7 linked regions of the Homo sapiens genome follow. Changing the gene in region 1 together with any one later gene gives a genetic interaction. Each region holds a gene or a part of one and is shown in the gene's direction. Other genes may lie near its edges. The genes, in order: CUL5, CTBP1, SLC33A1, NPRL3, RICTOR, CAND1 and SEC23B.

What was found.
Region 2: changes in CUL5 (region 1) and CTBP1 together harm fitness less than expected from each alone (positive genetic interaction), as found in Homo sapiens cells (one large-scale study listed by BioGRID).
Region 3: changes in CUL5 (region 1) and SLC33A1 together harm fitness more than expected from each alone (negative genetic interaction), as found in Homo sapiens cells (one large-scale study listed by BioGRID).
Region 4: changes in CUL5 (region 1) and NPRL3 together harm fitness more than expected from each alone (negative genetic interaction), as found in Homo sapiens cells (one large-scale study listed by BioGRID).
Region 5: changes in CUL5 (region 1) and RICTOR together harm fitness more than expected from each alone (negative genetic interaction), as found in Homo sapiens cells (one large-scale study listed by BioGRID).
Region 6: changes in CUL5 (region 1) and CAND1 together harm fitness less than expected from each alone (positive genetic interaction), as found in Homo sapiens cells (one large-scale study listed by BioGRID).
Region 7: changes in CUL5 (region 1) and SEC23B together harm fitness more than expected from each alone (negative genetic interaction), as found in Homo sapiens cells (one large-scale study listed by BioGRID).

What each region holds. Positions count from the first base shown.
Region 1 is NC_000011.10:108,102,420-108,106,034, forward strand, and holds part of CUL5 (cullin-5), read left to right. Parts: intron 1-1,770; coding exon 1,771-1,965; 3' UTR 1,966-3,615. UniProt on the Homo sapiens protein: Core component of multiple cullin-5-RING E3 ubiquitin-protein ligase complexes (ECS complexes, also named CRL5 complexes), which mediate the ubiquitination and subsequent proteasomal degradation of target proteins.
Region 2 is NC_000004.12:1,214,623-1,219,055, reverse strand, and holds part of CTBP1 (C-terminal-binding protein 1), read left to right. Parts: intron 1-464; exon of another isoform or gene 465-2,850; coding exon 2,851-3,065; exon of another isoform or gene 3,066-3,097; intron 3,098-3,365; exon of another isoform or gene 3,366-3,510; intron 3,511-4,433. UniProt on the Homo sapiens protein: Corepressor targeting diverse transcription regulators such as GLIS2 or BCL6. Has dehydrogenase activity. Involved in controlling the equilibrium between tubular and stacked structures in the Golgi complex.
Region 3 is NC_000003.12:155,833,316-155,837,748, reverse strand, and holds part of SLC33A1 (acetyl-coenzyme A transporter 1), read left to right. Parts: intron 1-3,707; coding exon 3,708-3,892; intron 3,893-4,163; coding exon 4,164-4,281; intron 4,282-4,433. UniProt on the Homo sapiens protein: Acetyl-CoA transporter that mediates active acetyl-CoA import through the endoplasmic reticulum (ER) membrane into the ER lumen where specific ER-based acetyl-CoA:lysine acetyltransferases are responsible for the acetylation of ER-based protein substrates, such as BACE1.
Region 4 is NC_000016.10:86,674-91,106, reverse strand, and holds part of NPRL3 (GATOR1 complex protein NPRL3), read left to right. Parts: intron 1-1,204; coding exon 1,205-1,394; intron 1,395-2,216; coding exon 2,217-2,409; intron 2,410-4,236; coding exon 4,237-4,402; 3' UTR 4,403-4,433. UniProt on the Homo sapiens protein: As a component of the GATOR1 complex functions as an inhibitor of the amino acid-sensing branch of the mTORC1 pathway.
Region 5 is NC_000005.10:38,955,191-38,959,623, reverse strand, and holds part of RICTOR (rapamycin-insensitive companion of mTOR), read left to right. Parts: intron 1-302; coding exon 303-429; intron 430-792; coding exon 793-957; intron 958-1,104; coding exon 1,105-1,181; intron 1,182-1,893; coding exon 1,894-1,972; intron 1,973-3,919; coding exon 3,920-4,029; intron 4,030-4,433. UniProt on the Homo sapiens protein: Component of the mechanistic target of rapamycin complex 2 (mTORC2), which transduces signals from growth factors to pathways involved in proliferation, cytoskeletal organization, lipogenesis and anabolic output.
Region 6 is NC_000012.12:67,306,839-67,311,271, forward strand, and holds part of CAND1 (cullin-associated NEDD8-dissociated protein 1), read left to right. Parts: intron 1-558; coding exon 559-654; intron 655-3,062; coding exon 3,063-3,232; intron 3,233-3,313; coding exon 3,314-3,478; intron 3,479-4,433. UniProt on the Homo sapiens protein: Key assembly factor of SCF (SKP1-CUL1-F-box protein) E3 ubiquitin ligase complexes that promotes the exchange of the substrate-recognition F-box subunit in SCF complexes, thereby playing a key role in the cellular repertoire of SCF complexes.
Region 7 is NC_000020.11:18,555,687-18,560,119, forward strand, and holds part of SEC23B (protein transport protein Sec23B), read left to right. Parts: intron 1-4,433. UniProt on the Homo sapiens protein: Component of the coat protein complex II (COPII) which promotes the formation of transport vesicles from the endoplasmic reticulum (ER).

The sequences.
Region 1 (3,615 bases):
AGGCTCAAGTGATCCTCCTGACTCAGCCCCCTGCGTAGCTGGGACCACAGGCGCGTGCCACCATACCCAGCTAATTTGTTTTTGTATATTTTGTAGAGATGGGGTTTCGCCATGTTGCCTAGGCTGGTCTCAAACTCCACGACTCAAACGATCCACCCACCTCAACCTCCCAAATTGCTGGGATTGCAGGCATGAGCCACCCTCCCTGGCTGGTTATCATATCTATATAGGGGAAGTTGAAGGAGTTTTTCTCTTACTGAATAGTGCCTGACTCCCAAGTCTGTTGATTTGCAGCAAAATTATATTTTTAAACGTTAAAAGCAAATGTTACTTCTTTTTCTATTTTGACATTTCTTTTACAACAAACTCTAATCTGTGCTAAGATAGATATATGCCTTTTGTTTTGGAGACAGGGTCTCAGGCTGTGGTGCAGTGGTGTGATCTCAGCTTACTGCAACCTCCACCTCCCAGGCTCAAGCAATCCTCTTTCTTCAGCCTCCTGAATAGCGGGGACCACAGACACACGCCACCATGCCTGGCTAATTTTTGTATTTTTTATAGAGATGGGGTTTCGCCATGTTGCCCAGGCTGTTCTCAAACTCCTGGACTCAAGCAATCCACCCACATCACCCTCCCAAAGTGCTAAGATTACACACATGAGCCACCACACCCGGCATATACATGCCTTTTGTTGGGTAAAGAGAGAGCTGGTACTGGAAAAGGTAAAAGAGAAAAGAATATTTAATGATTTTCTGATAACTCTTATTGTAAACTTAACAGTAATTAAGGAAATCATCAAGAAAAATTTTGATAAAATGACCTAGATGAAAAAGATTTATTTCTTTAGAAACTTAAAAGTGACTGGGCATCGTGGCTTACACCTGTAATCCTAGCACTTTGGGAGACCAGGGCAGGGGAGTATTTGAGTCTGGGGGTTCAAGACCAACCTGGACAACATAGCAAAACCTTGTGTCTGTATTTAAAGAGAAGAAGGGGAAAAAAAAAACCTTAAAAACATTTAATTGAGTCAATATAAACTGAAGATAATATTTGTAGCAAATATAATTAATTAATCTGGTAAATATATAAAGAGTACTACTTAATGACTTTTAAAACAGACCCCACCTGACCTGTACTGCTATACAAAGAAATAACTGAATACAAGGGAAAAATTTGGTGTAAGGGGTTTGTTATATTTTAATTAATGTTTAACATGATACCAGGTTATATACACATTGTTTTCACAGGTAAGATAACTTTTAAGAATGTGAATGGCATGGGAAAAAAGGAATTGAAGGAAATAATATTAAAACATTAGGTGTAGTTTTCTTTCAGCAGAGAAGCAGAGGTAATTTTGCTTTTCCTTATTTTTCAAAATCTCTATAGTCAGATTTTTTTTAAATACATACTTTAAGTTCTGGGATACATATGCAGAATGTGCAGGTTTGTTACATGGGTATACACGTGTCATGGTCATTTGCTGCACCCATCAACCCGTCATCTACATGAGGTGTTTCTCCTAATGCTTATCCCTCCCCTATCCCCCCACCCCAATAAGCAGATTCTCTTTTATGGGGCATGAGAAAACAAAAGATGTTTTTATTTGTTAAGTAAAAGATACTAGTCTCAACATTAATCCCCTAGTGATTATTATTCATTTGGGTAGATGTTGGATAGAGGATGAATATGCATAAAAAGTCATTTTTCAGTTTGTTGTACTTAAAATAATTTCGTATATTAATGCGCTTTTATTTTTATTTTTTCTTTTAGGAAGCTATCATACAAATAATGAAAATGAGAAAGAAAATTAGTAATGCTCAGCTGCAGACTGAATTAGTAGAAATTTTGAAAAACATGTTCTTGCCACAAAAGAAAATGATAAAAGAGCAAATAGAGTGGCTAATAGAGCACAAATACATCAGAAGAGATGAATCTGATATCAACACTTTCATATATATGGCATAATTTTGAATATCATGGACAATATTTAGAACCCAAATTTTGGAGTGCTTGGGCAGAAAGTTGTAAAGTTTGTGCTGGAGAAAGGTTTATTTGGACTTTGATTACATAAATATTAAAATCTCTGCCTTACCTTACAAAAACAACTATATTTTGCCAATCACATTAGTTAGCATGATGGCATTCCCTTCATGTTGCACACTCTTTGACAGCATGCTGTTTTGTGGAGAAACTTGCATTCATGAAGAGCCCATTATCAACTTTTAAAAGTGAATTTGATTTGTACCCACCAGGAGAAATACAGTTGGGAAGGGTGAGGGTGGGGTTCTTGTTGCTTTTTTCTCTTTTTTCCTCTCTTAAAAAATGTACTTGCACAAGGAAGGATCTTCAGATATTCATGCACTGAAAAATGCTGTTATCTTTTGTTTTTAAAAAATGCAATTAAAACTAGAAATAGCACTCTTGGTTTCTTTTGATGAAAAGAGTGAGCTGGTCAATGCAACATTGGGAAACGGCAGATGTAGGTGAGAAGTTAAGTATTTAATAGTATCAAATTGTTCAAACATTGCTCAGTATAATAACTGGATTTTAATGGTGACCTAAAAATGGTATTAAATATTTTCAACTTTCAAATGTTGGTTTTCTTTAAGCAGGAGACTGCTATTTTAGTTGTTGTTAAATGATGAGGAGTTTTTTTTTTTTTAAATATGGCTGGAAAGCTTGTTTTGAAAAATGAAGCTTATATTAATTGTTGCTTCAATAGTTTAAAAAATTTATGGAGATAGGTAGGTCATTATGATTGCAGAGCCAAAATAGCAAAACAAACATATTAAGTGTGTTTACTAAACATATTGTGTGTTTACTAACACACTTAATGTTTATATACCTAATATTTATTATGCCATATCTGAATTTATTAAAAACAACACAGAAATCTCCTGCTCTGATATAGTTATGTAACTGATCTCTTAATCTGTAGCATAGAAGTATTTTGGTATTTTAAGGTCTCATGATTAGGGATTTGTAGCCTCAGGTTTGAATCAGTCACCTAGGGGTAAGAGAAAAACCACAACATAAGACCTGAAAAACAGAAGCAAAATTGTTGCACTCTTAATACGAGCAGTAAACTTGCCAAATATATGTACATATATATTTATATATTTTAAAAATAAACATTTTTTAAATCGTCAGAAGGCAACATTTACCATGTTCCTTTCAGTCTATCCAAAGTAGCAACTTAACTAGTTGCTGGCAACTGAATACCCAGAGTAGTGGAAATTTTAGGACTTGAGGACGTGAACAACTTGAAAGAGAAAATTGATTCCCCTTGAGGAAAGAATGGCTCAACGTGGATTTTTATTCATTGTGGTGCACGTTTCAAATTTTCTTGCAAATTATTTTATATCTTATTTGATGTTAAGTAATATTTTTAAAGTATGGTTTTTGAAGATAGTAGGAAATGGAGTACAGAAAGGCATACAGTATTATGTTACAGTGGAGTGCTTTCAAGAGCATTTCGTAGGATCTGTCCCCATCCGAAGAGGCTTTGTGAACTGCCTGCTGAATGGAAGGAAAGCAACTTTAAAACATTTAGAGTTTTGCTGAGTATAGCCAAATGCCTGTTCTGAAACTTATAGGAAATTGGAATTTTGTTTA
Region 2 (4,433 bases), on another chromosome or scaffold:
CTGACTTCTGTCTTTTATGTTTAAAGTGTGTCTGTTATTAATAGTATAGAGTTAGTTCCTCTTTCTTTTTTCAGTCTGACAGTCTTTGCCTCTTGAGTGTTCAGTTCATTTATTTTTAGTGTAATTGCTGATGATTTGGATTTCGGTGTCATCTGGCTACGTGTTTTCTGTTCATCCTTGTTTTTCCTTTCTGGCCTTCTTTTATATTAATCAGGTGTTAAATGATTCCTTGCATCTGTTGTTGCTTTTTAACCTATACTCTGCTTAGTGATCGTGTTTAGTTTTACTTTAGAGATTAGGATACGCCTTCATAACTCACTGCCACCCAGCATAACCTGTGAAGACTCGTCCAGGGCGGCCAGAGGCCCGCGGTGGCTCCTCTCACCCTCGGGCCGATTTTCCACGTCTATTATGCAGAAAACCGTACAAGAAGCTATTAGTCATGAGTCTGTCAAGGAATTTTTCAGTAATTTTTCTTTTGAATATCAACCGACACATCCACCCTTTCTGCCTTGTTTACGCCCCCCGATTCTGGCTGTCCTCGGGCGTCACGTTCCTGTAGCCTAAAGACTGTCTTAGAAATGTGGCTCACCAGTGACCGATTCCTTTTGCTTTTCTTTGTCCGAAAATGTGTTGCCTTTTTTTTTTTTGTGGAAGGTAGTCTCGCTCTGTCGCCCAGTCTGGAGTGCAGTGGCGCGATCTCGGCTCACTGCAGCCTCTGCTTCCCAGGTTCACGCCATTCTCCTGCCTCAGCCTCCCGAGTAGCTTGGACTACAGGCGCCCGCCACCACGTCCGGCTAATTTTTGTATTTTTAGTAGAGACGGGGTTTCACCATGTTGGCCAGGCTGGTCTCGAACTCCTGACCTTGTGATCCGCCCACCTCAGCCTCCCAGAGTGCTGGGATTACAGGCGTCAGCCACCAAGGCCTGTTCTTTAAAATTTATTTTTTAAATTCTTTTCTCTCTGCTTCTGTTTGGATGCCATCTGCTGACTTTGAGCCCCTCCCTTCAAGCTCCCGATCCTTTTCTTGCAGTTAGCTTTGTCCAGGGAGTTCCGTTTCAGAGGGATGTTTTCGTTCTGGAATTTCTATGTGGTTCTTTATAGAGTTACCATTCATCTTCCGGAAGCCTCCATTTTTCTGCTGTTTACATCCACACTTGTTGTCATCTCTGAGCATGTTTATAGTAGTTATTAAGAGGTTTTGCTGGCTGATTCCAGCCTCGGTCATCTGTGCGTCTGTCCGCTTCCAGTGTTTTGTTCTAATTAGAAACTACATCCTCCTGTCTCTTCACCTGCATCATCATAATTTCTTATCCTAAGCCAGACATCATGTGGAAGAGAATGGCAGAGACAGAAGTGAAGAATGGTCTCGCCCCGAACAGCCGCTGCTCTCCCGTGTCAGGCGTGGCCGGCGCCGGCCCGCGGCTTTAGCTGGTTTTCGCCACCGGCAGCCCGACTTCCGGGGCTTTGTGTTGTGCGCAGTGGGAAACAGCGTGTCGTCCGCCTTCTGCGCTGTGGGAGACGCCTTTCTCTGTGTCTGCCTGTGTTCTCTTCCTCCCCATTTGGTGGGATCCCTGGCAGGGGGCGTTGACAGACGGGCTGTTCTGCACCTGGGGAGCTGCCCGGGTACTCCGGCCGTGGCTGCAACCCTCAGAACTGCTGCTCCCACCTCCGCCTGCCGAGCCCTCCTCCCTCCTGCAGCAGCCTCGTCCCTGGGGATGGAAGGAGCCACCATGTTCCTTCTCGTAGAACAGGCGCCTCCCTTTCTAGGATGTAGTGCGTTTAGACGGTCCTCAGCTCTTCTGACTGGCCTCCCAGCCTCCCCCAGTCCTCTTCCCAGAGTGACTGGGGGTCCCCTGGGCGTTTGGGCCACGTCCGGCCACCCTGTGTGCCTGGCGGTCTGGTCTCCTTGGCCCTCAGGCCGCCGCGGGCCCCTCGCACGTGTTGTTCCAGCTCTCTGGCTCCCTTCCTGTCCCCTTATGTCTCCAGCAAGCTTGGTCTTCTCAGGGAGGCCTGCCCTGGCTGCCGCCTTTGAAACTGCGCCCACTTCCCACCCGCCCCGGCGCTCAACCTGCTTCCTTCCTGTGTAGCGGTTCCCTCTGAGGCAATGCAGGAGACACCACGTTCGCGGGCTTGGGGTCCTGTGTCCTTTGCAGCCATGCTGTTGGCTCACAGTGGGCACGAGCACTCTGCAGACCCTTCCCCGAGGAGGAGCCGGCCCCAGCCAGACACGGTGGCTCAAGCTCCACGGCTCCTGTGCTGGGACCCGTGCCAGCCTTGGACTGCTGGGGTGGGGGCAGGCACGTCTGCCTGGGATGGCTTTCTCTGCCGCTCCACTCGAAGGGGTCAGGACCTGAGCCCAGCGGGGCCTCCCTGGTCTGGAAGTTTCCCTCCTGCCCCCTTTGCCGTCTCCACGTAGTGGTGGCTGGAATTGAGATGCCGGAAACATTGATGGGTGGATCGAAAGGCCAGCGGAGGGGCCTGGGCACGGAGGACATGTGTTGGGTGGGTGGAGACCCACTGACCAGTCCGTTTGACACTGAGTGGTTCATGTCACGTCCTGTGGACAGGCTGCAGGGGAGTGGTGTGGCTGGCAGCTGGTGTGGGCCGAGGGGCTAGTGTACCCTTTCCACCCCTGTGCATCTCCTCCGCCTTGGCAGTGGGCGCGTTGGAGCGGACGTGGAGCGCTCGTGTGGAGCGTGCGTGGGCACCTTGGCTTGACCACAGCTGGTGTCATCCTTGGCAGATGGTCAAACTGAGGCACAGAGGCCACTCCGACCCTGGCTTTCGGGGCCGGCCTCCCGGCCACGGGTGAGCAAGGGTCTCACACTGTGTCTTGACGCCACCAGGTCGCGTGGGGCAGGCAGTGGCGCTGCGGGCCAAGGCCTTCGGCTTCAACGTGCTCTTCTACGACCCTTACTTGTCGGATGGCGTGGAGCGGGCGCTGGGGCTGCAGCGTGTCAGCACCCTGCAGGACCTGCTCTTCCACAGCGACTGCGTGACCCTGCACTGCGGCCTCAACGAGCACAACCACCACCTCATCAACGACTTCACCGTCAAGCAGGTGCGTGGAGCCGGGGACACAGGACTCTACTTCTGCGGGGCAGGTACAGGTGGGGGTGTCAGGCAGGTCCCTCCCAGCAGCCATCTGCACCTGGGCAAGACCCTGCCTTCAGCGAGCCACATGGCGGCGGCTGCCAGCCCTGCTGGGGGAAGCCCTGTCTGCCCAGACAGCGTTTTCTGTGTTCTGAGTTCTACTCAGGACATCTAAAATACTCTCTGGACAAGACAGAACCTCATACCTTTGAACACCAAATTCCCCTGAAGCCCTTGCTGTTGTCACAGTGGGGACAGATGCAGCTACCTGGGGGCGTTGGGTCGGCCCTTGTGACTTCCGTGCTGCCAGGTTCAGGTTTCACATCTGCAGCTGGAACGGGCTGTGCTCAGGTCGGCCTCTGACATCTGCAGCTGGAAAGGGCTGTGCTCAGGTCGGCCTCTGACATCTGCAGCTGGAACGGGCTGTGCTCAGGTCGGCCTCTGCCTCAGCACAGCTCGCAGTGCAGCCTCAGCCCTGCGTTCCCCTTGAGTGGGTGGAGCTGGGGATGGCTGCCTCCCGCTGGCTCCAGGCCCTTCAGGGAGTCATCGTGTGTGCACAGTGATGTGTATGTGTGTGGGCAAGTGTGCGTGGGTGCATGTGTCTGCATGTTTGTATGAGCTTGTATGTATGTGCATGTGTGTACACACGTGTCAGAGGCCACCCGCCCACTCTAGCTGCCCCAGCAGCCTGTAGCCACAAGGAGGATGAGGCCAGGTTCCCGCTGCCCCTTCCTTTGTTCACAGAGTCAGTGGGTTTGGAGCCTTCTAGGGGACAGGGTGTGGCACGTGGATGCTGGTCAGAGCCCTGCCGTCCCTGAGGACCTTGGGTGTGAGGCTTTAATGGGCAGCAGTGCACCAAAGAAAAGCCACCGTGACCTGCCCAGCTGTCAGCCAAGCACCGTGGCTGGGTGGACTTCTTGGAATGAAATGGGGGGGCTGCAGGAAAGCCCTGGCCACGAAGCCGAGGGAGAGCCACCCGCAGGGCTTTTTGCAAAAGTGCATGAAAAGCGAGCCTGTTCCGAAGACGGAGGCTCTGCTGCAGGCCCCGCTGGGGTTGGAGTCAAAGACCACGCCTCAGAACAGACGGCCCTGGGCTTTGCCGTCCCAGGGAGTCCCACCTCGTGGGCTGAGGCCCTGCGTGGGGGAGGCTGGGCTGGAGGGGACCCAGAAAAGGGGTACCACAGGGGGACCAAGCCAGGAGCCCCCGCCCAGTCCTCAGCTCAGGGCTTGGGCAGGAGGGTGGAGCTCTCTAGGAGCTGTGGGGCCGTGCAGGTCCATACAGGGCAGATCCTCAGCCAGCCTGTCAGGGCCGCGGTGCAGCACGCCCGAGGCCTTC
Region 3 (4,433 bases), on another chromosome or scaffold:
TCTTTTGCTTAATATTATATTTGTGGAATTTATCCATATTTTTATTTATAGCAATAGTTTGTTTATCTCATTACTGTATAGTATTCCGTTGTATGGATATGCCACAATTTATCCATTCTATCAACAGATTTTTAGAGCTATTATGTGTAGTGTTTCTACAAACATTCACATACGTGACTTTTGGTGAAGATAGGTGCACATTTCTCATTGGTAAATATATAGGAATAGAATTGCTGGTTCATAGAAGATGCATAGTATTTTGTACTGCCAAATAGTTTTCCAAAGTGGTTGTTCCAATTTTCCCTACCACCAGCAGTGTAAGAGAGTTCTGATTTTAAGGAGTTTCACATCCTTGAAAACACATATATTATCTTTTTTTTTTTTTTTTTTTTTGAGACGGAGTCTCGCTCTGTCCCCCAGGCTGGAGTGCAGTGGCGCGATCTCGGCTCACTGCAAGCTCTGCCTCCTGGGTTCACACCATTCTCCTGCCTCAGCCTCCCAAGTAGCTGGGACTACAGGCACCCACCACCACGCCCAGCTAATTTTGTGTATTTTTAGTAGAGACGGGGTTTCACCTAGCCAGGATGGTCTCGATCTCCTGACCTTGTGATCCACCCACCTTGGCCTCCCAAAGTGCTAGGATTACAGGCGTGAGCCACTGCACCTGGTGTATATCATCTTTTTAATTTTAGCCTTTCTGGTGGTTGTGTAATGGCATCTTGTTATTGCCATAATTTGAATTTCCCTAATGACAAAAGAAATTGAGCATCTTTTCATGTGATTATTGACCATTTGAATATCCAAAGTTGCCCTTTTCTTTAAATTTGTAAAGTTGTTGTTTCTGTTTAGATTTCGTTGTTTGAGATGAGGTCTCTGTCACCTAGGCTGGAGTGCAGTGGCACCATCACAGCTCATTGCAGCCCTGACCTCCTGGGCTCAAGTGATCCTCCAACCTCAGTCACCCAAGTACAGGCATGTGCCACCACCACGCCCAGTAAATTAAAAAAAATATTTTGTAGAAAAGAGTTCTTACTATGATGTCCAGACTGGTCTTGAGCTTCTGGGCTGAAGCAATCCTCCCGCCTCATCCTCCCAAAGTGCTGTGCTTACAGGCATGAGCCACTGTGCCAGACCAAACTTTTTAAAATATATTTTGAATTTGAGTCTTTTATTAGATATGTGTATTACAAATATCTCCTACTATATAACTTTTAAGACTTTTTTAACATTTTAAGATTAAACATTAAAGTCAGTTTGTATGTCTTATTTTTACAAAGGGAATGAGTAAAATGTAAGTGAAATTATTTTCTGGACTTAAGTGAAATATATGTTACCTTTAATTTTTTTTATGGTGAAATTTTCTTTGGCTCTATTCCAAGAAGTTACCGTGTATACTATTTATAATTTTTCTTTCTTTCTTTTTTTCTTTCTTTCCTTTTTTTTTTTTTTTTTTTTTTTTTTTTTTTTTGACAGAGTCTCACTCTGTCACCAGGCTGGAGTGCAGTGGCGCGATCTTGGCTCACTGCAACTTCCACCTCCCAGGTTCAAGCGATTCTGCTGCCTCAGCCTCCTGAGTAGCTGGGACTACAGGCGTATACCACCACACCTGGCTAGTTTTTGTATTTTTAGTGGAGATGGGGTTTCACCATGTTGGCCAGGATGGTCTCAAATCTCCTGACCTCGTGATCCACCCACCTTGGCCTCCCAAAGTGCTGGAATTACAGGCATGAGCCACCGCGTCTGGCCTTATAATTTCTTTAAAAAAAAAAAAATTGTGTGATATTGAAGTGGCCTTGTGGTCTAGGGTAGTACCTGAGGTTTGCTGTCTCACAGCCACAGAGATCAAGGACGTGGACACACAAAGAGTGAGGTTAACAGCAGAAGTTTAGTAGGTGAGAGAGAGAATAGCTCTGTGCTACAGAGAGGTGTCCTGGAAAAATGTGTTGCCAGATCTGTGGTGAAATGCAAGGGGTTTTTTAGATGAGCTAGTGGGGAGGCAGTGTCTGTTTTAAATAGGGCATGAAAAACCGGTAAGGTCCAGGTGCACCATTTATATAGGGCATGAATTTCTGGCAGCCCCCACCCTAATTTTTTATCATGCAGGCAGGTTCTCTGCCTGAGCTGCACCATGTTGCCCATTTTTTTACTGTACACATGCTAACAAAAAAGAGAAGGTGGAGCTTTCATGGTGGACATGCCTGGCTCCCAGGTAGCCCTTTTCTGTTGGTTCAGCTGCTGGCATTCCCCCGTGCAAGCTTCCAGCTTGCTTATCTATGTTTGCAACTCAAGTTTTTCAGGCTGCTCTTCGTTAGAAAAGAAATGATTTTGGGGGCCGCTTTTTGTTAGAAGGGAAGCTCTGCCGAGGTCTCTTTTGCCCTCACTATCTGCCTAAATAATTTCTTTCTGCCTACTGTATCGATATAACTTCACACTTCTTGAAAATGTATTAGTAGAACTCCTTTATATCCTTTATCCAGATTATCTAATTATTAACGTTTAGCTACACTTTCCTTATTCTGTAGATGTTCTCTTTCTATGTATATCCATTACATATGTCTTCTGAAATACTTTAGAGTAATTTGTACACATTATGCACTTTTATCCATAAGTACCTTAAGTATGTATTTCCTAAGAACAAGTTTTCTGCTTACAAAACCACAACTCAATATTGGGAAATTTTAAATTGATATAATATTATTGTCTAATTATAGTCCATATCCAAATTTTACACAATAACAGTCCTTATAACTTTAATTTTTTTCTTGTTGGGGATCTAATCTAGGATCACACATTGCATTCAGTTGGTATGGCCTTTCATTGTCCTTAATATCCTTGACATTTTTGAAGAATACAGGCCAATTATGCTGTAGAATGGGCTTCTAGTTACATTTCTCTCATGTTTCTTCTTGTTTGGGTTGAGGTTATTCAGGTATATAAGACAGGAAGATCAAAGAAGTAATGTTTTGATGTCTGCAGGGAATTATACTGAAAGCCATATCATGTCTCTTTATCCCTTTAACTGCTGTTTTTAACTTTAATTGCTTTGCTAATCTATTGTAAAAGTACTATTTTTTCTTTTGTAATTAAAAACTGACTCATGGGGAGATACTTTGAGGCTATCTAAATAATCTTAATTTAATTCTTACTCTTTTTTGTGCTGTTTTAAAGAATTAATCTAACTATACTTTATCCCTTTCATTTTATTCAATCTCTCAGATACGTTTTCCCAGAATTACTTTTGAAACATTAGATGAACTTAGGAAATTTTATTATGGTCAGTCAGAAATCATTAAAAATGTATATATATATTGGCAGTTATGCTTCATTTTAACCAGATTGATTTGGGTCAATTAAAGGCTTAAGTTCTTTTAAACCTAAAACTTTCAAATTGGTAAATTTGGATTTTTGACCCCGTTTACTATAACACATTGGACTTTTTGAAGTGGAAATTTAGTTGTATTTATAGCCATCTACCATCCCTACCAGTACTGAATTTTCAGTTGTTTTCACTTAATATTATTAGAAAACCATAAGGCAAAATGTACCTCGTATAACTTGACTGTTGTACCAGGTATAATAATATGATGCTCACTTGTAACTGTCATGGGTCAGTAATAAAATTGAGGTTCTTGAAGAACTTACATATGCATGGAGGAAAATATTTCATAAGTCACGAATTAAAATACTTTTTTGTTTTTATATTGCAGATTGGTTTTTCAGCAGCAGATGCTGTAACAGGACTGAAATTGGTAGAAGAGGGAGTACCCAAAGAACATTTAGCCTTATTGGCAGTTCCAATGGTTCCTTTGCAGATAATACTGCCTCTGATTATCAGCAAATACACTGCAGGTCCCCAGCCATTAAACACATTTTACAAAGCCATGCCCTACAGGTAAAAATGAAATAAAACCTTACTAAATAAGAAAGGGTAAAATGAGGAACATTCATCAATACCACTAATATCTGAGCGTAGAATTATATATATGGAAAAAGATTTGAAAAGCATCTTTTTTCAATATTATTTATATGCACTTTTATCTTTTTAACCTCCTAACAGGTTTAGATACAGCTTCTTTCATATGGTAGGCACACGGATTTCTGTTTTTGTTGTTGTTGTTATTTAAGCTAAAATGGAAGTCAACTCAATGTTTCTTTCTCTATAGATTATTGCTTGGGTTAGAATATGCCCTACTGGTTTGGTGGACTCCTAAAGTAGAACATCAAGGGGGATTCCCTATATATTACTATATCGTAGTCCTGCTGAGTTATGCTTTACATCAGGTAAGCTTGCAGTGGTTTTCTCAGGAAATAAACTGTTCTGTGTAAAATAAGGAAGACAGCTTTCTACAGTTGTCTTAAAATAATGATAATAAATTTTAAGCATGAATCTGACACTGAAGAAATTATTGATGGTGCGCTTTAAACTTTATGAC
Region 4 (4,433 bases), on another chromosome or scaffold:
TACGCCCAGCTTTTTTTTTATTGTTTTGATATAGAAACTTGCTTTGTTGTCCAGGCTGAAGTACAGTGGCGTGATCTTGGCTCACTGCAACCTCCGCCTCCCAGGTTCAAGTGATTCTCCTGCCTCAGCCTCCCAAGTAGCTGGGATTACAGGTGTGTGCCACCACACCCGGCTAATTTTTGTATCTTTAGTAGAGATGAGGTTTCACTGTGTTGGCAAGGCTGGTCTCGAACTCCTGAGCTCAAGTGATCCACCCGCGTCTGTTTTATTTCTTAAATTCATGTGAAGTCTGGATATCTTGCAGTCCTTTTGACCAAGTCTTCTTACTTGCCTGGGATATATCCCCCATTCCCATCCCCAGTTCCCCAGCCCCCTCCCAGGAGGTGACCCTGGCCAGCAGCTCCTTGTTGACCCTCCCAGAGATGAGTAGACAGATGTGTATCTGAGGACACTGATGTGTCTCACACTCCTTACTGTTCAACGCCTGAGTCTGGGCAGTACTTTCTCATGGGGACTGGACTCTACCTGGCACAAGGCTCCTCACTGCTCCTCACTGCCAGCCCCACCTGCTAACCCAGAGACATTGGAGGGCCTGGCCAGGACGTGCCTTCTCACGGTGGGGGTGGGGGTGGGGTGCTCCACCCCCAAGCCCAGGGTCACTGGCCTCAGCTTTCTTGTGGATCCACTCTTGTGCTCAGGGTGGACTTTCAGGTAGATCCAAGGAGAGGACTTTCTGCTCTCAGGGTACCTGCCCACAGCCTCTTTTTAAACAGTGTCTGGGCTTGTGTGGAGGTGGACTTGCTGGCTGGGTCCAACTCCAGGGCCAGTGGGCCAAAGAAGAGAGGAGGCAGAGGGGCAGCTGCAGCAGCACAGGGTGGGGGGTTTGCTCAGCGAAGCAGTCACAGGGGCCTCCACGTCTCAGGTCCTGCTCCTCAGCCAGATGCTGGGTGGCCCCGGTGTGTGGTGGGAGCCTGTGCAGGTGTGATCCAGATGTTCCCCTGGCCCCTCTCCCTTCCCAGGAGGGTGAGCGGGCCTTGCAGAGCTGGCTGGCAGCTGGGGGCTCCCTTTCTGAGAAGAGGGCCTTTCTGCCTGTGCGTCAGCACAGGGAGCGTGCTGTGGCCATGTCTAGGGCCATGGCTCCCTGATCACCCAGGAGGAAGTTGGAGTGGGGAGGGGGACCAGCCTCACCTGCTGCCACCCGCAGACCCAGCTCATCCAGATGGTGGTGTGGATGCTGCAGCGCCGGCTTCTCATCCAGCTGCACACCTATGTCTGCCTGATGGCCTCACCCAGCGAGGAGGAGCCCCGTCCGCGAGAGGACGACGTCCCCTTCACTGCCCGGGTCGGCGGTCGCAGCCTCAGCACGCCCAACGCCCTCAGCTTTGGCTCCCCAAGTAGGACCCCCAGGGCACCGCTGTGGTAGTCAGGGGAGACGCTTGGGGGTGGCATCCAGGAGGCTCAACGTGGGTGGTGCTGTGAGTGATGAGGGGCCTCCACACAGCTGCACACGCACATGCACGTGCCTCGTGTCCCCCGTGGAGACACCTCTCCTGTCTCCTAGCACCACCGTGACTCTGAGGTGGCAGCTCTGTCTCCGGGCTCTTCAGCAGGCTTGCTAGAATTAGGGGCAGCTCCCAGCCCAGCAAATCAGTGCTGGAATCTCTGCCCCAGCCTGGGAGCAGAGCAGGATCTCATACCACTACCAGGACAGCTGACACCTCTGCGCCCCAGAAGAGCCGTCATGGCCAGTGTGGCTTGAGGGCAGCAGCCTGTTGCCAGGTCCCAGGTCCCCGGTCCCCAGGCTTGGGGAAGGAAGGGGGTGGAAGACTTTGAAAGTCCCCCCTTGGCTGAGGTCTGGCTGTAGGCTTCATGCTTCATGTGAGGACCCCACCTGCCCAGGGTGCTTTGTCCTCCATCCTGGGTGAGGGACAGGATGCCCAGGCCCACCTTGGGGTGTTTGTGGGGCACACATCGCACCTCTGTTCAGGTCCCTTGAGGTTGCCCCCAGAGGGGAGGCTACCCGTTTCCCAAGTCAGCCGTATGAGGGGCGTGTCACACCCAGGAGGTGGGGCAGCAGCGAATGCTTGCAGGCAGATGTACCCTAACCCTTGTAGGAGTTAGGGGTGTCATTGGAGGCTGGCTGCTGGCTCTGCCCTCGCTGTTCCCCTGGGTGTCCTGGAATTCCACTTGGTCACCCTGACCCATGTCCCCCACAGCCAGCAGCGATGACATGACCCTCACCAGCCCCAGCATGGACAACTCCAGCGCAGAGCTACTTCCCAGCGGGGACTCGCCACTGAACCAGAGGATGACGGAGAACCTGCTGGCCAGCCTGTCGGAGCATGAACGCGCAGCCATCCTCAGTGTACCCGCAGCCCAGAACCCTGAGGACCTCCGCATGTTTGCCAGGTGGGTGTAGGTTGACCCGTTGGGACTGGGGCCAGTTGCAGGGTCAGGGCAGAAAGTGGATAGGGACGTACGCAACAGAACCACCAAATCCACTGAGAACAGATGGGGCCCTGTTCGAGATGGAGTCTCTGCATTCAGGTGTGTAGGGGCAGGTGCCACTGCCCAGGCCTGAGGGTTCGGCTTGTCACCAAGACGCCGGGCCATGGGCCTGGCATGCCTATTTTTCGGACTCTTCTCTCTCCAGTACTTCTTAGATGTTCCTTTTCCCTTGAGAGGCAGTGCCAAGTTCTTTTTTTTTTTTTTTTTTTTTGAGACGGAGTCTCGCTCTGTCACCCAGGCCGGACTGCGGACTGCAGTGGCGCAATCTCGGCTCACTGCAAGCTCCGCTTCCCGGGTTCACGCCATTCTCCTGCCTCAGCCTCCTGAGTAGCTGGGACTACAGGCGCCCGCCACCACGCCCGGCTAATTTAAGTGCCAAGTTCTCACCCTCATGGGACTTGGCAGGGGTTTGCCCAGGACTGTAAGCCCTGCGGGCATCCAGGGTCCCCCATGTTAAAGGTGATGTGGCTCAGTGGTCTCTGTCAGCCCCACCCTGACTTGGGGGACAGTGCAGGGGCATAGTTTCCCGGGAGTGGTCGGGTTGTCAGGGACTGAGTTTCCGGTTGAGAACCACACTCGGCCCTCGAGAGAACCACTTGCAACTCTTCTGAGCAGCTGGTCCAGGTCTCACCTGCATCCTAGCCTCCTCTGTGCCAGCCTGAGTTGCAGAAAGCACCCTAAAGCAGTGACCTTCCAAATGATGGTGACATTAAAAAAAAAAAAAAAAAAAGTCAGGCGCGGTGGCTCATGCCTGTAATCCCAGCACTTTGGGAGGCTGAGGTGGGTGGATCACGAGGTCAGGAGATCGAGATCATCCTGGCTAACATGGTGAAACCCCGTCTCTACTAAAAAATACAAAAAATTAGCTGGGTGTGGTGGCGGGCGCCTGTAGTCCCAGCTACTGGGGAGGCTGAGGCAGGAGAATGGCCTGAAGGCGGGAGGCGGAGCTTGGCGGGAGGAGGAGAATGGCGGGAAGGCGGGAGTTGCAGTGAGCCCAGATCGCGCCACTGCACCTCCAGCCTGGGCAGCAGAGCGAGACTCCGTCTCAAAAAAAAAAAAGCAGGCTGGGCACAGTGGCTCACGGTTATAATCTCAGCACTTTGGGAGGCTGAGGTGGGTGGATCACCTGAGTTCAGGAGTTCGAGACCAGCCTGGCCAACATATAATGAAACCCTGTCTCTACTAAAAAAGAGAGAAATTAGCCAGGTGTGGTAGCGCACTCCTGTAGTCCCAGCTTACCTGGGAAGCTGACGCAGGAGAATCGCTTGAATCTGGGAGGCGGGAGGTTGCAGTGAGCTGAGATCGAGCCACTGCAATCTAGCCTGGGTGACTGAGTGAGACTCCGTCTCTCAAAAAAAGGAAAAAAAAAAGCAGTGACCATTTGGCTCCAGAGCTACGTGGGACTCACTGTAGCACGAAAAAGAAGCCACCAGCAGAACCCTGGTCCCAACATCAGGACGCAGGCTTGGGCACCTCTGGGTTTGAACAGCCGTCTGCCGTCCTGAACCCACTCCGCCCACCTGGTGGTCAGCGGGACCGTGGTGGGCATGGGGTCCAGGAGGCCTGCCCACCCTTGTTGGGGGGCTGTGGTGGCTGCCTCCCTGGCCTTCACCACCAGCTCTGTTCAGGCCTGTGGGCAGCTCAGAGCTGATTCCCAGCAGTGGCTCTTCAGCAGAGGCCTCTGGGGGCTGGTGTCAGGTTGGGCTCACACCCACCCATCCCTTCCAGGCTCCTTCACTACTTCCGCGGCCGCCACCACCTGGAGGAGATTATGTACAACGAGAACACGCGGCGCTCCCAGCTGCTCATGCTGTTTGACAAGTTCCGCAGCGTGCTGGTGGTGACCACCCACGAGGACCCTGTCATTGCCGTCTTCCAGGCTCTGCTCCCCTGAGCCCAGGCGGAGGGCGGAAGGCTGCTGGGGT
Region 5 (4,433 bases), on another chromosome or scaffold:
TATTAAATGCTTTCTTTCCAAAAAGCTTGTTTATATTAGGAATTTTAAAAATATACGTTGAATTGACTTCATGCTCTTCCCACTCCAGCATTCAAAATAGTAACTATGTATGATGATTGATGTGTTCATTGATTGTGGTAATCTTCACAATGTATGTGTATATCAAATCAAGTTATACACTTTGAATAATACAATTTTTATTTGTCATTTATACTTCAGTAAAGCTGGAAAAAATATTTGTTTAATTAATGTATCAATATAGTAATTTCTTTTAACCATTCTTATTTTTTTTTTCTTTTAAGTCTCCTTAATCTTTGCTCCTTGAAAAACCAAGATCACTTGCTAAAACTTACTGTTTCTAGCTTGGACTATAGCAGAGATGGATTGGCTAGAGTCATCCTTTCCAAAATTTTAACTGCAGCTACTGATGTGAGTATAACATAGCCAGTAAAACTATATTTATAACCAATTAATTCACTACTTTATGAATTTTGGGCTAAGTAAAATTAAGTTCTAAGAATATGATATGGAAATTGAGTTTACTTTAAAATTTTAGTTTCTCCAAGGAACTGCATATAGTACTCAGATTTTTGTATCGGGGGAAGAAGCTGCTAGATAGAAAGGGAAGTATTCTATTTCACAAGAACCAAAAAAGTATTCATATCAAGGGCTAGACCACCAATTCCAGGCATTCTTCCCTTTTCAAGTAGCAGGACTATCCCAAAATAAAATCAAATAGGCTATTTATGCTGAAGTTTTTTTTTTTTTTAATGTATTCATTTATCCTTATAGGCCTGCAGACTCTATGCAACAAAACATTTAAGGGTATTATTGAGAGCTAATGTTGAATTCTTTAATAATTGGGGAATTGAGTTGTTAGTGACCCAGCTACATGATAAAAACAAAACGATTTCCTCTGAAGCTCTTGATATCCTCGATGAAGCATGTGAAGACAAGGTAAAGGTTCATTTTTTATAATTTAATACTTAAATTTTTTTGAAATACTCATTTGACAATTATGTAAAAGTATATAATAGGCATTTTGGAACTAAAAATTTTGCTATTTTTGTGCAATTATAAAAAAATAATGATAATCTCTTTTAGGCCAATCTTCATGCTCTCATTCAGATGAAACCAGCGTTATCCCACCTTGGAGACAAGGGTTTGCTTCTCCTGCTGAGGTAAATTTTAAGTAAATTTTCTGTTATGTTTTTTTGTTGTGTTCTTTGGCAGTGTATATTAAAGATAGATTCAAATCCAAATGGGAAGTACGCTGAAGAGTTTACCTTTTAATATTGAAACATTGTCTTTTCATTATTTTGGGTTTTTCTTTTTTTTTAATTTTTTTGGTCTGTTCATACTTTTCATGACATTTTCCTTTTTTTTATTGAGACGGCCTCGCTTTGTCATCCAGGCCAGAGTGCAATGGTCCAATGTTGGCTCGATGCAACCACTGCCTCCCAAGTTCAAGTGATTCTCCTGCCTCAGCCTCCCAAGTAGCTGGGACTAAAGGCGCACACCACCACGCCCAGCTAATTTTTTGTATTTTTAGTAGAGTTGGAGTTTCACCATGTTGGCCAGGCTGGTCTTGAACTCTTGACCAGGTGATCCACTCACCTTGGCCTCCCACAGTGCTGGAATTACAGGCGTGAGCCCCCGTGCCTGGCTGACATTTTCTTTATTGTGATTGGGTTCGCGTGTTGTTGCAAAGATTGTGAAAATTTATTTGTAATTGAAGTTATAATAAATTATAGTTGACCTTTTAGTTTTAGGAACGAACTATTCCTAAAGTCTTTTAGCTCCTTATACTTTTTTAAATTTTAGTTATTTTAGCTTCTTAAGATACGTTTTTGCCAGACTCAATGTTAAACTATTGCTTGTTTTAATTTGCAGATTTCTCTCCATTCCAAAAGGATTTTCCTATCTGAATGAAAGAGGTTATGTAGCAAAACAATTGGAAAAGTGGCACAGGGTAACTTCTTATTTGAATAAAGTTGAATTTGTGTGTTTTTATCTTCTGAAATTGATTTGTGAATTTAGAGGATGGTTTTTTTATATCAGTGTTTTGAAATTAATAAGGTTAAATATTTAAACATCAATATCAAGTTGAATCCTAAATTCTGCATAATTGCTAGTATTTATAGTTATACATTTTTTTAAACTACAGTTATTTCTTTCATTCTGAACTGTTGACTGTATTCGTTCTATTGAAATTTGACTCTCAACTCATTTGATTTTATAATCTAATTTTTGGCCCTGTTTATCATTTCTTTCATTCTTCGGTCCCTTAATATGGCCTACAACTTTGCATGAGCCCTTTAAGCTAAAACCAAAATAATTTTTTTAAATGAAGGGAGATTGAAATCCCAAGGAGATATAATCATTTAGTTAAACTTTACTTTAGGATACTACTTTACCTAAATCTGAGAATGAACTTCTTGCTGTCATAGGGAAACCTGCTAAGAAGGGAGTAGTTTGAAGATATGAAACAACTTTTCTAGCTTTTCTTTAGCTGGTGATTGCTGTGGCTTCATTATTTTGTTTGAAGTATTATAAGTCATCGAAGCATCTTGGAAACCCATGGTCAAAATGATCTTTACCGATATAAATGATTTTTAGATTTTTCATCATTTCAGATCAGTTATCCTGTTTTCTCTTTTTTGTTAACATAGTTACACATTCTTTTATAGTGTCTATATTGAACCATATTTCATAAGAGATACTCCTTAAATGGACTAAAACTTCCAAGCATACAACTTAAGGCATGAAGTCTTTTAGTATTTGATGAATTGTAGAACTGAGACAAGATGTGATAGGTTTGTTTCCTAGAAGATATTTAAATCATCATAATAAAATTTATTATACAAATCATAGTATTAGAAAATTGCTTAGAATATTGGTGCAGTGCTTGAAAATAGCATAAAATATAAGAGCTATAACAAAGTTACATGCAAGGTATAAGGGAACACAGAGGAGAGATTAATGATTCTGCCTTAGGGATTATCAAAAGAAATGTTGAATAGGAGCCGTAGATGTGATACTTGAAATGGTCTTGAGGAGTAAGTAGGCAAATAAATTAGAAGAAGGGTATCCACGGAAGAAGGAGCAGAATAAAGCTGTATAGATCATTGGAACATTATAGACTTATGAAGAAAGTCATATTCCAATGTAGTTGGAACTAAGGTAAGTGTGGAGTGGCAAGATGAGGCTGGAATGGTAAATTAAAGCTAGATTGTAAAAGGCCTCGTAAGCCATATTATATCATCCTAAGGGATTTCAATTGTATATATAGTGGGGAATCCTTAACAGCTTTTAAAGAGTGATCAGAGTTGTGCTTTAGTAATCTGACAGGTTGCAGTGAAGAGGAGGAATTTTGATCATTGAAGGTAAAGTCTAGAAATATTGACACAAGTTTAGAAACAAGAATTGATGAGTGCCTGAACTTCACTGGTAGTTAGGTTGATTAGATGAGGACGCATTTTCTGGGTATTTTCAAAATAAGATGGACAGAATTTGTGGGCTGATTGGATACAGTAAATAAGAGGTCCAACTTGGCTCATAAGGTTTCTAATTTAATGACAATATATAATGGATCACTATTAAGAGATCACATTTATAAAAAGTGATTCAAGATTAGGCTAATGAATTTTCAATATGTTGAACTGGCATTGTCTGTGCAGTAACCACGTGATGGCTTGAAAATGTGGATCTGGAGCTCAGATTTGTGAGGAAAATGGCAGATATGGGGGTCATTAGTATATAGTACTAGTTGAAACCTGAGCCAAAAGCTTATGGATATGATAGAACATTTGCATTCATAATACCTTGATCTGTCTACCCTTTGCTAAGTATCTGACATATTTTAAATTTAGTGACTCATTGTGATACTATGTGCAATTAAAACAATATTATCCTCTAGGAATACAACTCCAAATATGTTGACTTGATTGAGGAACAACTCAATGAAGCACTTACTACTTACCGGAAGCCTGTTGATGGTGATAACTATGTTCGTCGGAGTAACCAAAGGTGCGTACCCAGTTATCAGATTTAAAACTAGTTCATCATAAATTATTTTTAACATTTCTGAGTTTTTGTATATTCTGCTTCTAACATGATATAGGAAGAATCTTAATGCGCAGCATTAATTGCTCAAAAATTCAGTGGCATTCATGGCATGTTGAATATCCTTACTGATAACGCATTCACATATACTCCATGCTGGCACCCCAGTCTGTATTTCTAGGCCTAGATTCTCTTACCAGTACTTTGAGCTCTGATAAACTGTTACAGGTTGAACATCACTTATCCAAAATGATGAAATGTTTCGCATTTCAGATTTTTTCAGATTTGGAATATTTGCATATATATAACGAGATACCTTGGGAATGGTACCCAAGTCTAAACATGAAATTAATCTGTTTCATATACGC
Region 6 (4,433 bases), on another chromosome or scaffold:
TTTTAATGTTACTATATTGTGTTAAAATGTGGAAAAGATGTATCTAATGAATTAACATAATCTGAAGAGCTTGTTGATACTAATTACAATAAGTATAATTGGTGACAGTACTTTTTTCAAATGGAAGATTCTGGAAGAGTTTTCAGATTTACCAGTGTCATCCCCATTAGAACAAGTAAAAGGTAGTAATATTAATAGCAGTAATAGCCATTCATTCTTAGACATTGCTTTCTGTTTTAGTAAAAAATTTGAAGATTTTTAAGCGGTTTTGGATTTAGCTAGTTCTATTTTGTGAGGGCGAGATCGTCCACTGCTGCTTCAAGTCCCTCCTTCCCAGAAGGAATTGTTTCTTTGAAATCTAATGGGATTATATTTTGTGCTCATAAGTAAGTTAATTTTGCTCCTTTGGATTCATGTGTGCAATAAGAAATACCCTTCTTGGCCAAGGAGAATTCTAAGGCATTGAAGACACTGGTGTTATTTGGAGTGGTTTAAAAATGATGTCCGTGAGTTTTAGTGGACTACATACCAATAGACTTGCAATTTATTTTTAACTAGGCTCATCATATGCCCGAAGCTCAGTGGTTACGGCTGTGAAATTTACAATTTCTGACCATCCACAACCTATTGATCCACTGTTAAAGAACTGCATAGGTAAGTGGAAACAAAGATAAACATACTGATTTTTGGACTTTAGAATTCTCAAGAAACTCTTGAACTTAGTAACTAGAAATATCGAGGAATTAAAATGCTTATAAAATAATTGTTTAAAAGAAAATTGATATGATCTTACAACTTTTAACAAATTGCATTTGCCTGTATTGTTTGTAATTATTCCTAGATGATTTTGCACATAAATGAAGTTATAATATACCAGCATGTCTTTAGAGTCAACTACATATTTGATAGCCATATTTTTGGGGTGACCTAAGATAGCTTTAGTGGATAAAGCAAAAAGATACTAGATTTATATGGCCAGTCTGAAGTTTCTCCCTAGATTTAAATGAGTCTTGCTTGAGCTATTAAGGCCTCAAATTTCAATTATTACTTCTAACACCCAAGGAGATCTATGGAGATTTCCATATTTAAGGTCAAAATAACCTAAGAATAAAAAATAAAGGGGGGGAGAGCTAATTCCCAGAAGAACTAAGAGGAGATAACCCAAGAAAAACTAGGGCTTCTCTATTTCTGTGAAGACAAGAATTAGCTTTTGGGATTATTTCTGATTTTATAACCTCCTTGCATTTTGTTTTTATCATTGGTTTTCCTAGAGTTTGATAATAGCCAAAAACACCTCAGAATTTAGTTTGTTGCTTTCTTGAGGACAGGATAATGGAGATAACCATCAGGGAGGATTGAGGGATTTGGCAAAGAAGCTTTGTAGCTTTGTGCCATTCTTCAGTGTGCCAGAAAGAAAAAAAATACAATATAAAATTTGAACTGCATAGAAAGGGATTGCCAATTCAGAATAAGGAAAGCACAGGCACAAATGGGTTCTATTGCTAGGGCCTAGAAATTATTTAAAGTCTATATGAGAAACAACTTATTGGCATTTCCCCCACACATTTTCTGCTTTGATATGTTTATTGAGGACATTGGTATTATGCAAAATAGGACAGAGGAAGAGGCCCATGCCATATCTCTAGAAATATCTTTCCATGTTGACAGCAGTCAACCAGTATGCATTGTTGATACAGTTACTCAGCCAGGTAGTTAGCATTCTAATTGAATTATGATCTAGTTAAGTATTCATGACTATTTGAACATCAGAACCACCTGGGAAACTTTTTAAAAATTGAAATTGCTAGTTCATGACACCATTTTGTCCATAATAGCAATATTTTAGATGCTTTACTGAAAGCGGATATATACTCTATTGTAATTACTCTTCTAATCTACCAGTTTAGTATGCAAATAAAGGGGAGGGGAGATTAGTTTGGTACATTTATATTGTTTTTGAAACCACGCTGTTTCTCAGACTTTTTTTTTTAAATCAGTGCTGGAACTTTCTTGGATATCAACATTGGGTTTCCCAATCTACAGTATCTGAAGTCTCTCTTTCCTCCCATATTTTCAAATTGCAGGTTTTTCAAGTTGGCATTCAAGTCTTTTATCTCTCCTACATTTCCCTGTGTATTCTAAAAGATTGCTGATGATAGAGTTGAGATCATATAATGATGAATAATAGCTACATGTGAATACTTAGTGTGTACTAGACATTGTCTTCAACAATATATGCGCCGTTTATTCTGCTCAGTATAGCTCTAAAAGGTTTATAATCCTCATTTTATTGACTGAGAAACTGAGGTTCTTGCCTAAAGTAACTTGCACAAAATCATACATTTAACAAGTAAAATGATTTGAACCACCAACCATGTGACTCCAAAGATCTTTGCATTATACTTTCTTGCCCACATTTGCAAGAGTAAGCAGACTTTTAAAATACCTAGATGGCTTCTCTGGCTTTTGTCCTATGTTAGCTTTCAATTTTCTCCTTTTATATTATTTTCCTGTGAATTCGTGTATTTCTTACTGAAGACAGAAATAAAGTAGGGCTTTTGGAGGCACGTTTCTCTTTCATTTGATTAATTGTATATCTGCTAATAGTACTCCATCTTTATTAAGCAGTGGGTCTGTCTTCACTTCATTTTTTTATTCTTATTTTGAACTTAGTTTAAAAATATTTTTGTTGCTGCTTTTAGTGAACTACAAGGAGAATCAAGCATGTGATTAGTCTTTTTAGCTCTGTCTCTGTCATATCTTATATCTATAGAAGTGATATTGAGGAACTTTATGGACTCTTCTTCCATACCCTCTGCATTATAAGTGCTGAGAGTGGATTATCAATTGAAAATATATTCACCTTCAGAAATGATAGTTGCGTTGCTGCTGAAAGAAACGTTATGGTTCACTTAGTGTTTCATCAGGTTCTTCCCTGACCGTCACTGAAGAAATAACAATGACACCAGCAAAAATAAATTATATCAACTTAGAGAAAATATAATGTATATTGTATTTTAAGTTTATCATGTCTGTCTGTTGCTTTTCTTGTAATATTTCAGGTGATTTCCTAAAAACTTTGGAAGACCCAGATTTGAATGTGAGAAGAGTAGCCTTGGTCACATTTAATTCAGCAGCACATAACAAGCCATCATTAATAAGGGATCTATTGGATACTGTTCTTCCACATCTTTACAATGAAACAAAAGTTAGAAAGGAGCTTATAAGAGAGGTAAGTTAGATCACACTGTTTATTTGAGCTTGTCTTTGACTTAAGTATTGTATATCCACACGTTCTTTTTTGCTTTAACAGGTAGAAATGGGTCCATTTAAACATACGGTTGATGATGGTCTGGATATTAGAAAGGCAGCATTTGAGTGTATGTACACACTTCTAGACAGTTGTCTTGATAGACTTGATATCTTTGAATTTCTAAATCATGTTGAAGATGGTTTGAAGGACCATTATGATATTAAGGTAAGATGTTTGTGCCTATTTATACAATGTTTTAGAAGAAGACTTTGCTAGAGCAACTTTCACCCTTGTAATTTACTCATGTGTCTGAGAAAAATCAGGTTGTCTGTGAAGATTTTGATAAGCATATTGTAAACTATAAAGTGCAAAAGTAATAGGCAGTGTAACACCAGTTGACGTGTAAGAAAGATCCAGAGCCCTTTTTATTGGAGGAGGAAGTGGCAGTGGATGCAAAATGCTGTGTGCCCACTTGCTTAGTGAATAGTCCCTAGATCCTTTCCCTCAAAAAAGTCCCGACAGATTTTGCTGTTTAAAGTATAAATCTGTAACTTTTTGGCCTGTCTTAACATTGGACCATAGTTGCTACCCATGGAGGGTTTTCTTAGCATTGTCTTGATTAAGTCTCCTGAGCTACCTTTGGGGCTAGTCTGAATTGTAACTGTATCATTTACCTGAATGAGGAATTTTTGTTTTTCAATATAATATACTGTGTTTAATATCAAGAATTTTGTTATAGGACATGGAACTTTTCAGATATACAAAACAATCTGTAGAAGCTACTTGAGAGAAATCATACTGCGTCTTATGTTTGGATAATGAATTTTGCATATAAGTGTTCTTTGTTTTCCTGTGTGTTCGTCTCCATTTAAAATGTGAACAGTAAAAGGGTGATTTGAAAAATGAAAAATATATGCATTGTGTCTTTTTCATCTACTCTTCCATTTAGGGCTTTTGGCCAAGCAGGACAAAAGTGGTAACTCAGCAGTAATTGAGCCATACTACCCGAACTCCTACTCTTAGGTTTCCATGTGTGGTAGTGACCTGAGCCTCTCAAAGTTCAATGAAGAGGGCCTCCCCACCAAGAAGTAAAAGGATGTGCTTGTTTAATTCTATGAGTTTATAGTCCAAGAGAAAAAGGTTTATGGGTTATCAGGTTTTACATGGATTAATCTGAATA
Region 7 (4,433 bases), on another chromosome or scaffold:
AGATATTGTAAATTTACATATAGTTGTAAGAAATAATACAGAGAGATCACCTGTATCTTTTACCCATTTTCCCTTAGTGTTAACATCTTGCAAAAACTATAATACAGTATCACAACCGGGATATTGAGATTTTTAAGGTCAAGATGTGCAGCATTTCCATCACCACACTTATGCACTTTATTTCTATTATTGTTACATTGTAATATATAATGAAATAATTGTACAACTCACCATAATGTAGAATCAGTGGGAGCCCTGAGCTTGTTTTCCTGCAACTAGATGGTCCCAGCTGGGGGTGACGGGAGACGGTGACAGATCATCAGGCATTAGATTCTCATGAGGAGCATGCAACCTAGATCCCTCACATGCGTTGTTCACAATAGGGTTTGCACTCCTATTAGAATCTAATACTGCTACTGATCTGATGGGAGGTGGAGCTCAGGTGGTAATGCACGTGATGGGGGAGCAGCTGTAAATACAAATGAAGCTTCACTTACTTACCTGCCACTCACCTGGTGTGTGGCCTGGTTCCTAACAGGCCAAGGACTGGTACTATCCGTGGCCTGCAGTTGGGGACCCCTGATTTAAAGTGTATGGGAGGGTATGCATAGGTTATATGCAAATGCTACACCATTTTGTATTAGGGACTTGAGCATTTGTGGATTTGGGGATCCACAGGAGGTCCTAAAACCATTCCCCCACAGATACTGAGGGATGACTGTATATAGAAATACAATTGACTTTGGTATGTTTATCTTGTATTCTGTGACCTTCCTGAGTCGCTTACTACTCTTAGGAGTTTTTTTGTAAACTTCTCAGAAATTTCTACTTAGACAATCATGTCATCTGCAAGCCGGGGACAGTTTTATTTCTTCCTTTTCAATCTGAATAACTTTTACTTTATTTTCTCAAAGAATCAGCTCTTCATTTCATTGACTTTATTATCTTTTTATTTTCAATTTCATTGATTGCTGCTCTAGTCATTGTTATTTCCTCTCTCCTGTTTGCAGTAGGTTTTTAAAAACTCTTGGCTGGGTGCGGTGGCTCACGCCTGTAATCCCAGCACTTTGGGAGGCCAAGGTAGGCAGAACACGAGGTCAGGAGTTCGAGACCAGCCTAGCCAACACGGTGAAACCCCCGTCTCTACCAAAAATACAAAAATTAGCTGGTGTGGTGGCATGCGCCTGTAGTCCCAGCTACTTGGGTGGCTGAGGCAGGAGAATTGCCTGAACCCAGGAGGCGGAGGTTGCAGTAAGCTGAGATCACGCCACTGCACTCCAGCCTGGGCAACAGAGCAAGACGCTATCTTGAAAAACAAAAAGAAGTGAATTTATTATAGACAGCTTATAGTTGGGTCATGGTTTTTAATGCACTCTGCTGAGCTCTCTTACTTGGTATATTTAGACCATTTATATATAATGTAATTAATGATATGTTAGGGCTTAAGTGTGCCATTTTATTTTTTGTTTTCTGCTTTTCTTTTTTCATCTTACGTACTTTTTTCCTGCCTTCCCATGAGTTATTTGAACATGTTTTAGGATTCCCTTCTGACTTGTTTGTAATGTTTTTGAGTGTATCTCCTTATTTAGCTTTTTAAGTGGTTGCTCCTAAGTGCCCTAGGTTTTTTTATTTTAATTGAGATGAGGTCTTGCTATGTTGCCTAGGCTGGTCCTAAACTCCTGAGGTCAAGCGATCCTCCCACCTCAGCCTCCCAAAGTGCTGGGATTATAGGCATGAGCCACCACACCTGGCCAGGCCCTAGGTATTACATCATATATGCATAACTTATCACAGTCTACTGGTGTTCAAGCGAAGTCTAGAGACCTTACCTCCCTTTTCAACACTTTACTCTCCTCCATCGGTAATATAATTATGTTAAATATTTCCTCTGCATACATTTAGTATCACATCAGACAGTGTTATAATTTTTGTTTCAAGCATCAAACATAATTGATAAGTCTTAAAAGAAAAACCTATTATATTTCTCTACATGGTTGCTTTTATTGTTTTCTTTCTTTTTAGAGATCTTTTAGCCATTCTTTTTTTCTTTTTTCTTTTCTTTTTTTTTTTTTTTTGTTTTTTTGAGATGGAGTTTTGCACTTGTTGCCCAGGCTGGAGTGCAATGGTGTGATCTCAGCTCACCGCAACCTCCGCCTCCAGGTTCAAGCAATTCTCCTGCCTCAGCCTCCCGAGTAGCTGGGATTACAGGCATGCACCACCACGCCTGACTAATTTTGTATTTTTAGTAGAGACAGGGTTTCTCCATGTTGGTCAGGCTGGTCTCGAACTCCTGACCTCAGGTGATCCGCCCGCCTCAGCCTCTGAAAGTGCTGGGATTACAGGCATGAGCCACCGCGCCTGGCCTACTTTTAACCATTCTTTTAGCATAGGTCTTCTGGTGATAGATTTTTAGTTTTCTTTTATTTGAGAATGTCTTGACGTCCCTTTCATTTCTGAAGAATATTTTCTCTGCATATAGGATTCTGACTAACAGCCCTTTTCTTTAAGCAGTTGAAAAATATTGTGCTGCTTCCTCTGGCCTTTATGGTTTCTTATGAAAAGTTCACTGTCAGTCTCATTGTTTTCCCCTGTAGAGAAGGTGTCATTTTCCTCTGGCTGCTTCCAGTAGTCTTTTTCTGTTGTTAGTTTTCAGGGTGGATGGGCAGGGGCAGAGAAGAAAGTGTAATTATGACATGTCTTGGCATGGATTTCTGTGGGTTTATCCTGTTTTGATTTACTCAGCTTTTTGCTTCTGTAGGTTTCTATCTCTTGCCAAATAGGAAAGTTTTCAGTCCTTATTTCTTTGAATGCCTTTTCACCTGCTCTCTTTTCTTTCTTTCTTGACATCCAGTGACATGAATGTTAGATCTTTTGCAGTACCCCAGGTACTACATTTCCATGTATTTTCTTTCTTTTGTTCATTTGGGTAACTTCTATTGTTTTGTCTTCCAATGTATTGATTCTTTTTTCTGTTCTCTTTCTGCATTGAACCTATGCACTGCGCTTTTTGTTTGTCACTGTATTTTTCAGTTACAAAATTTCCTTTTGGTTCTCCGTGACTTCCACTTCTTTCCTGGGACCTTGTTGTTTCTTTGCTGAGGCTTCCTATTTTTTCATTTGTTTCAAGTGTGTTTGTAATTGCTCATGAAGCATTTTTATCATGGCTGTTTTAAAATCTTTGTCAGGTGATTCTAACATTGTTGTCAACTTAGTGTTAACACCTGTCACTTGTCTTTTTTAATTCAGGTGGAGGTCTTGGTAATCACTTTGTGTAAGTGATTTTTTTATTGAAACTTGGACACTTGAGTGTTTGTATGAGACCCTGGATCTTATTTAAACCTGCTACTTTTCGCTGATTTTTTCTTACACTACTCTGACAGGGAAGGTGGTTGGTGGGGGGGGTGTCGGGGGCACTGGTGGGCTCCATTACTGCCAGGTGGAGAAGTCCAGGTTTTCCACTGGCCTCTGTTGACACCTCGGGGTGTCTAGTGATTTCTTGTTACTGCTTAGTGGGAATGAGAGTTCCAGCTCCCCCATAGCCTCCAGTGAGACCGCTGTGGAGATGGCCTTGTTACACTTGGGTGATGGTGAAAGTCCTGACCCTCCTCCAGGCCTCTGAGGCCACCCCAGTAGGCAGGCGGAGGGACATATATTTTGCCAGGTTGCGGTGGAAGTCCAGGCTCCCCAAATGGCCTCTACTGACACCACAGGGGTAGGAAAATTTTTTTACTTGGCCATTGGGGATGAACTTCCTGGTTCCATACTTAGCCTTCTCTGGCACCATCTTGGTGGGAGTATTAGGGTGCCTTGTTACTGCCTTGTGAGGGTAGAAATTGTAGCTGCCCACCCAGCCTTTGCTGGTTCAGGTGGGTCAGGGCCACAGTTTTTCCTCTCATTTTTGCCCGGAGTACAGTGGTTATTATCTAAGATTGTTCTGTCTTGCTAGGCTGCTTTAGTCCTTTGGCTAGAGAAAGTGGGTGTTTTTTGTTGTTTTGTTTTGTTTGAGTCTGTGCTCAATGACAATTTGCCAGCTTCCTCAGCTCCAAATTCAGAGTATATGAGGCATAAGAAAGCCCAAGGAACTCACTGCTGTGCATCCTTGGGTCCCAAGGTCTTTAGTTTTTCTGTCTTCTCTCCACCTTTAAAAGTCTTCTTATGTTTGGTTTACATAAGATGCCCGAAGTTTTCAGTTGTACTTAGTGGGAGGAATAGAGAAAAGTATATATTCTATTCCTTCCTCGAAATCCTCTGAAAACATTTTGATCATGCTTACACTTTTCTAATTATAACAGTATGGTTTCATTTTAGAAAATTTGAATATGTTTTAAAAAATAAGAAAATTTAAATTACCTAGAATCATTATTTAAAGAGTTAACTATTTCCAGCTTTTTTCTACGTAAAGTGTATTATTGTGTGTGTGTGTATATATATAT